Linked DNA regions of Homo sapiens. The protein of the gene in region 2 purifies or fractionates together with the protein of the main gene of each other region. This does not show direct contact. Each region holds a gene or a part of one and is shown on either strand. Other genes may lie near its edges.

Region 1 (3,463 bases), on a different chromosome or scaffold from region 2:
AACTCAGCTGATCAATTAACTGATGAATTCTAGCACCAAACCTGCTCCCTATAATTTTATAACCAGCCTCAGAGAACCTTTAAAGGGATTGATCATTCACTCATTTATCCAGCGAATGTTTATAAAATGCCTAATGTGTCAAACACTGTTGTGCGTGCTGGGAATACAACAGTTGGAAATTCAGGCACAAAGACTCTCATTCATGGAGATTACATTCTACTGGCAATTTCAGTGTGTGAGCTAAATTGAGTGGTGCTAACTGTTGACTTGGCTGGTTGACTGAAACTTGGACTCAAAATTTGCCTACACTAAATGAAGTTTAAATGCCAGAAATTTCCTCATATATTATAAAGTACCCAAAGATAAATGGAGTTTGGAATGCTAGAATGAATTTATCATGTAAAATCAAGATTACCCATACCTCAAATATGTATTCCAGTAGCATCTAGAAGACAATCTCTTCACTGACACTGATCTGGTCACAGGAAATAGAGATATACTACTGTAAGATTATTTTATTATACAGTAAGTGATATAATGTCCTTGAAGTTAGAATGATAAGTTCATGATTTTCTTTCAGTCAGTTCAGGCTACTAGAAAAAATACACCATAGACTGACTGACTGCCTTAACAAACATTCATTTCTCACGTTCCAGAGGCTGAGGAGTCTCTAGAACTGGACTCTAAAACACAATCAAGGTGTTGGCAGGTCTAGTGTCCAGTGAGAGTCCATTTCCTGGTTTATGCATGGTCATCTCATTCTGTCTTCACATGGCAAAGAGCAGAGAAAGAGAAAACAAACTCTCTTCTGTGTTGTCTCATAAGACACATAATCTCATCATGAGGGTTCCACTTTCAAGATGTAATTACCTTCCAAAGGTCACACTTCCTAATGCCATCCCTTAGGGATTAGGACTTCAACATGTAAATTTGGAGAGGACATAAATATGCAATCCCTCACAATGATGTATGCTATAAAATCTCAAGGAATCAAATGACAAGGATTTACAGTTAATAAGCCAACAAAGGAGACAATATGTAATATAAACACACTCAGCTACTCTAAGGGAAAGCAGAAAAAGAAGAAAAGGAGAACAAAGAAGACATAGAATAAACAACAAATAGTAAGTTAGTAATTTAAACCTAAAAACATCAATACATTGAACGTAAATGATCTAAATACCCCAGTAAAAAGACAGAGATTGTTAACTGGATAAAAAAGGAAGGCCCAACTGTATGTTGCCCACTAAACACCCACTTTAAATATGAAAGCATAAATAGGTTAAAAGTAAAACCATGATAAATAAAGATATGAAAGATATAACAGGGAAAAACCCATGTCAAATTATTAGAGGTTAAAAATTACAATTTCTGAGAGAAAACATACTTTGGATGGGATTAATGACAGATTAAACACTGTGGAAAAAAGATTAGTGAACTGAAAGACATAGCTATGAGAACTATAAAAAATGAAATAATGAAGGGTAAAATAATAAAAAGCATGAACATCATTTTCATGTACATATGTGTATACACAAAAAGATTTGTGAACTTGAACAAGGCAAGAGATACAATCTAAACTACAAAGAGAACAAAAGCTAACCCCTACCTTGGCCCCCGGAGTAAGAGATATCATTCTGAGGAACACCAAGTGGAAGCCTCTAAAACTGCCCCCCTCCCCAGCCAAACTCTATGATCAAGATAGTAAATGAAAAACAATATTGTGGGAGGGGTAGTGAGGTTTATAAGATATAAAAAAGTAAAATATATTTCATATCTTGTAAACCCTACTATACATATTAGTGCAGGGAGCCAAAGGCCCATGGGACATGACAAACTCAGCATTCCGCTGGAGGCTATATGATCAAACAGCAAACTGTTTATCATGAATGCAGGATGTGGGCAAACTCACACTGCCCTGCCACCATTGCCACAGTTACCATATTAACAGGGCTTTTCCCCTGCACATGTTCACTAGGACTTAAGCTGTGACTTGCTGTGGAAGGATTTTCCACCTTCACTGAATCCCCCCGTTTCTCCCTTGAGTGTATTCTCTTATGTTTAACAAGGCAAGACATATAGAAGTAAGCTTTCTCACACTCATCACAGCCATAGGGTCTCTCTCCCGTGTGAGTTCTGTGATGTACAATGAGCATTGTCTTTGTAAGGAAGGCTTTCCCACAGTCACTGCATTTATAGGGTTTCTCTCCTGAGTGAATTTTCTGATGTCTAATGAGTCCTGACTTCTGTGAACAGGGTTGCCCACATTCAGGACATACAAAGGGAGTCTTTCCTGTATGATATCTCTGATGTGCTACAAGGCAAGACTTCTGGCTGAAGGCCTTGCCACAGTCAATGCATCCATAAGGTTTCTCTCCAGTGTGAGTTCGTTGATGTATGTTGAGATTGCCCTTCTGAATGAAGCCTTTTCCACATTCACTGCATGTATGAGGCTTCTCTCCTGTATGAGTTCGCTGATGTACAACGAGTAGTGATTTTCTGGAGAAAGCTCTCCCACATTCGCTGCATTGATGGGGCTTAATTCCCGTGTGAATCCTTTGATGTTCAGTAAGCTCAGATTTCCTGGGGAAGGCTTTCCCACATTCACTGCACCCGTATGGTTTCTCTCCTTTGTGAGCTCTCTCGTGTTCAGTGAGCCTGTACCTCTTGTAGAAGGCTTTCCCACACAAGCTACACCCGTGGGGTTTCTCTCCTCTGTGAGCTCTCTCGTGTTCAGTGAGCCTGTACTTCTTGTAGAAGGCTTTCCCACACAAGCTACACACGTGGGGTTTCTTTCCTGTATGAATTCTCTTATGCTCAGTGAGCTGAGACTTCTTGAGGAAAGCTTTCCCACAGTCAGTGCATTCATGGGCTTTCTCTATGTTGTGTGTTTGCTGATGTTTAAGGAATTGTGACTTGGTGCTGATGGGTTTTCTACTTTCAGGGAATTCAATTTCCGTAGGCATTTGTTCATGATTATCATGGAGAAAAGCTCCATCTCCATTAAACTCAGCAGGCTCCTTTCTGTTGTATCTTCTGCTCTGGTTGGTTAAACCTAAATATGATTTCAAAGTTCTTCCGTGTTCATAGCGTTGTCCCGTCCTCTTCAGTATTTTTTGGTTTTGCAAGGGCTGCTGCAGATGATCATCAGCTTTCTCAATTTCTAAGAGAGAGAACAATAAATCCTTCCATGATCATCACACGGAATAAAACTGCTTCAAAGATGCCTTGGGGTTGGCTGGCTTTTTACTGGAACCCCTATAATACCAACATGGAAGGAATTCCAAGTATAAGTGTTCCCTATCTGTTAAAAAAACTTTTAAGAATTGTAGTTAAATACATATAAGATAAAATTTGCCAGCTGGGTGCGGTGGCTTATGCCTGTAATCCCAGCACTTTGAGAGGCCAAGGCGGGTGGATCACAAGGTCAAGAGATCAAGACCATCCTGGCCAACATGGTGAA
Region 2 (3,821 bases):
GAGAATTGCTTCAAACTACAGGGTAGAGGTTGTGGTGAGCTGAGATTATGCAACTGCACTCCAGCCTGGGTGACAGAGTGAGCCTGTCTCCAAAAAAAGAAAAAGTCCATGTGTAACTGCTGCTCACCAGAGTGTATATTCAAGGCAATGGGATATGTCCACCCTGGCTGCAATCCTCAAGCTTGACCCAAATAAATTATGTAGATTACTTTTGCCTCTGCTTCTTCCTTTAAGGTTGGCAAAACTCATCTTAAAACATCCCACTCTGGATTTTGTGTGTGTGTATACTGGGGACAGGGTCTGGCTCTGCTGCCCAGGCTGGAATACAGTGGTGCAATCATAGCTCACTGCACATCGAACTCCTGGGTTCAAGTGATCCTCCGGCCTCAGCCTCCCGAGGAGCTGGGACTACAGGTGCACACTCCCATGCCCAGCTAATTTTTTTATTTTTTGTAGAGATGGGGTCTCACTATGCTGACCAGGCTGGTCTTGAACTCTGCTCAAGCAGTCCTCCTGTATTTGCCTCCCAAAGTGCTGCGATTACAGGCATGAACCACCATGCTTGACCCACTCCCTAGTCTTAGACTGCTTTCTTCTGAATGTGTTCCAATACAAGATTCCTGGCTAGCACTGAGTCCCGGAGGGGTCCCCATGGTGAGGAATGGCTCCTTGGGGGAAAGCACCTGATCCCCAGAGAGCAGCTGTCAGTGGACGATGACCTCTGGACAGAGCAGCCTCTCAGAAGCCCCTCCCCGGGCAAGTGGGCCCAGGCCGCAGGTGCCAGGAGCCTTGGGGGCTCCGGCTGCCACATTCCCGGGACATGCACATTCCCTGGACTGTTGGCTCTGCCCCAAAAGTACTTCCAGAGTTCGACCAGGCTGGGCCAGGTCTCTCACCCTGGGTTCCTGCAACAGCCTCCCTACCTCCTGCCTCTGTTCTCAGGCCCTCCCGTGGCTCCTACTAACCCCCAAGTGAAAATACACAGTACAGAATACAAATCAAAAACAAGATTCTAAGCCCCACAACCAACCAAATGGATCCCTTCTCTTGGCCAAGGAGATTTCAAAGAAACCTGAAAAGCTAGTTCAGACCATGATGGGAAGTGGGGGCGGGGTCAGACACGCCTCATTATACCCGCTTATACCCCCTCCCTTTGGAGTTCAGGCACAGCTCATCAGCATTAACATCAAAACACAGATCTGATGATTGACCAGACTTTGTAGCAACAGATACCAAATTCCAACCTGACTCTAGTACAACATCAATGACAGGTAGCAGGCCCTGAAAGAAATAAAAATATTTTACCCCAAAATATCTTTGACATATTTTGAAATGGCCCCGCAAAGCTGTCTTTTGTAGGGGAAACTTACATTCTTTTTTTTTTTGTTTGAGACGGAGTCTCGCTCTGTCACCCAGGCTGGAGTGCCGTGGTGCGATCTTGGCTCACTGCTACCTCCACTTCCCAGGTTCAAATGATTATCCTGCCTCAGCCTCCCATGGAGCTGGGACTACAGGTGCGCACCACCACGCCCAGCTAATTTTTGCATTTGTAGTAGAGACAGGGTTTCACCATGTTGGCCAGGATGGTCTCCATCTCCTGACCTCGTGATCCGCCTGCCTCAGCCTCCTAAAGTGCTGGGATTACAGGCGTGAGCCACCCTGCCCGGTGGTAAACTTACATTCTGTAGATAATCCCCTTCCCTTTCCAGGTCTTTTTCTGATCCTGAAGAGATCTGCTGAGACTCTAGCACATTTTAAAGGTCTGAATAGGGGCCGGGCACAGTGGACTCACCATCTTTTGCCAGGCTGGCCAGGCCCCCCTTGGCCTTTGGCCGGCTGTTTTCTAGTTCAATCTCAATTGCATCCTGGTAACTGGATATTTCACCTGAAGTCATAAGTTAAAAGCAAAAAGTCAGCATAAAATCAATTTTCCCAACAAAACAGAAGCATTACATGGGAAGATTGGTTGGTTACCTTCAACCTCCTCCAGTTTTTTTGACAGGACTTGTTCAAGCTGAAAGGGAACAGGGCAAGAGGCTTCGTGAAGGGAGGCCCTGGTGCACAGCGCAGCCTCTGGGGTGCCGCGTGGGCCCCAGGGACCACAGGCTGCTAGAACTTAGGGGTACGCAGCGATGGAGGTGGAGCTATGGGCCTGTGTCCCCCATGGGAAGAGGTGGCACTTCCCAGAGTCTGTGTGAGGGGCATCCCGGAGCCTCGGGCTCTGGCTGGTCATAGCACTGAAGAGCGGCTATGAGGCTTTGGGATGGCACCAGCTCTGCTACAACCCCAGTCGGGGTGTGTGGCTTCCCCCCAAGGCTGGCAAGCCCAGCACAGACAGACACCAAAGCCGGCGCTACCTGCTTCATCCGCAGCTTCCTCTGCCCAGCTGTGTACGAGGGGGGGTCGCACTCCTCCTCCAGGTCGATCTTCATGAACTCATCAATGGTCAACTGACTGGTGGGGGTGTCTTCAAATTCCGTGAGCCTAAAATGGAGCCAGACATGGGAAATGGAGCTGGTGGCTCTGAAACCAGCTGTTTAAAACTGAGCTTTCGCCTGGGCGTGGCTCATGCCTGTGATCCCAGTGCTTTGGGAGCCCAAGGTGGGTGGATTGCTTGAGTCCAAGACTTTGAGACCAGCCTAGGCAACACAGTGAGACTCTGTCTCTACCCAAAAAAAAAAAAAAAAATTAGCCACGCATGGTGGTACACACCTGTAGTTTCTGCTACTTGGGAGGCTGAGGTCAGGGAGAATCGCTTGAGCCCAGGAGGTTGAGGCTGTAACGAGCTGTGATAGCGCCACTGGCCTCCAGCCTGGGCAGCAGAGTGAGATTTTGTCTCAAAAAATACATAAAAAATAAAAGGCCAGGTGCTGTGGCTCATGCCTGTAATCCCAGCATGTGGGAGGCCGAAGTGGTAGGATCACCTGAGGTCAGGAGTTTGAGACCAGCCAGGCCAACACGGTGAAACCCCATCTCTATTAAAAATAACAAAAATTAGCTGGGCATGGTGGTGGGAGCCTGTAATCTCGGCTACTCGGGAGGCTGAGGCCGGAGAATCGCTTGAATCCAGGAGGCGGAGCTTGCAGTGAGCCAAGATCGTGCCACTGTACTCCAGCCTGGGCGGCAAGAGCGAAAATCTGTGTCAAAAAAATGAATAAATAACAATAAAAACAAATACCTGAACTGTGCTTGTCGGATGTTCCTCCACGGGGCCTGGCACTCAGGCCTTGCCCCTCGGCGCCCAGGTCCCTTCTGGCGGCTTCTCCACCCCTACCCGATCCTGCCCGGACCTCTGCTCACTAGGAGAAAGGCCCACAGGCACCCTCATCCCTCACAAGAGAACCCCAATCCTAGGCGGAAGACTCAGAAGGCCTGAAGAGAGGAGGCTGGGCTAGAACCTCAGCACCTGGCAGTCGGGCAGGAAGGGGCCCTGCAGGCCTGTGAGCCATGGGGCTCAGTTCTTACGAACGCCTCTACACGCTACACAACCTTCAAACACGTTTCATCAAAGATTTTTTTTACAGAATCAATGGTCAGATGTTTAAAGTGAAATACTTTACAGCTGGTTTTGGAAAATGCCACAGGACACAATCTCAGCTGAAAAACAGCAGTCCTGTGTTTAAGATTTGTGATAAATGTCACAGCAGTTACAGGTGGCAGCAACTCCACTGTCACATTTACCTTGTCAAAGTCTATGAAACAGGGCTGCGGTGCAGGCGAGCTGTGAGGAACCCCGACAAATACCACCCAGCAAAGCCGGGGTGCAAAGCCCCACCCCTGCCTGCCTGGCTTGCTACGCCACTCATTTCACTGATGCGGGG

Evidence for each region.
Region 1: the proteins of BRF1 (region 2) and ZNF649 purify together in Homo sapiens (affinity purification with mass spectrometry, with the first as the bait; one large-scale study listed by BioGRID). This does not show direct contact.

What each region holds. Positions count from the first base shown.
Region 1 is NC_000019.10:51,888,735-51,892,197, forward strand, and holds the end of ZNF649 (zinc finger protein 649), read right to left. Parts: intron 3,164-3,463; coding exon 1,884-3,163; 3' UTR 501-1,883; downstream 1-500. UniProt on the Homo sapiens protein: Transcriptional repressor. Regulator of transcriptional factor complexes and may suppress SRE and AP-1 transcription activities mediated by growth factor signaling pathways.
Region 2 is NC_000014.9:105,224,277-105,228,097, forward strand, and holds part of BRF1 (transcription factor IIIB 90 kDa subunit), read right to left. Parts: intron 2,867-3,821; exon of another isoform or gene 2,713-2,866; intron 2,485-2,712; coding exon 2,358-2,484; intron 2,015-2,357; coding exon 1,975-2,014; intron 1,886-1,974; coding exon 1,793-1,885; intron 1-1,792.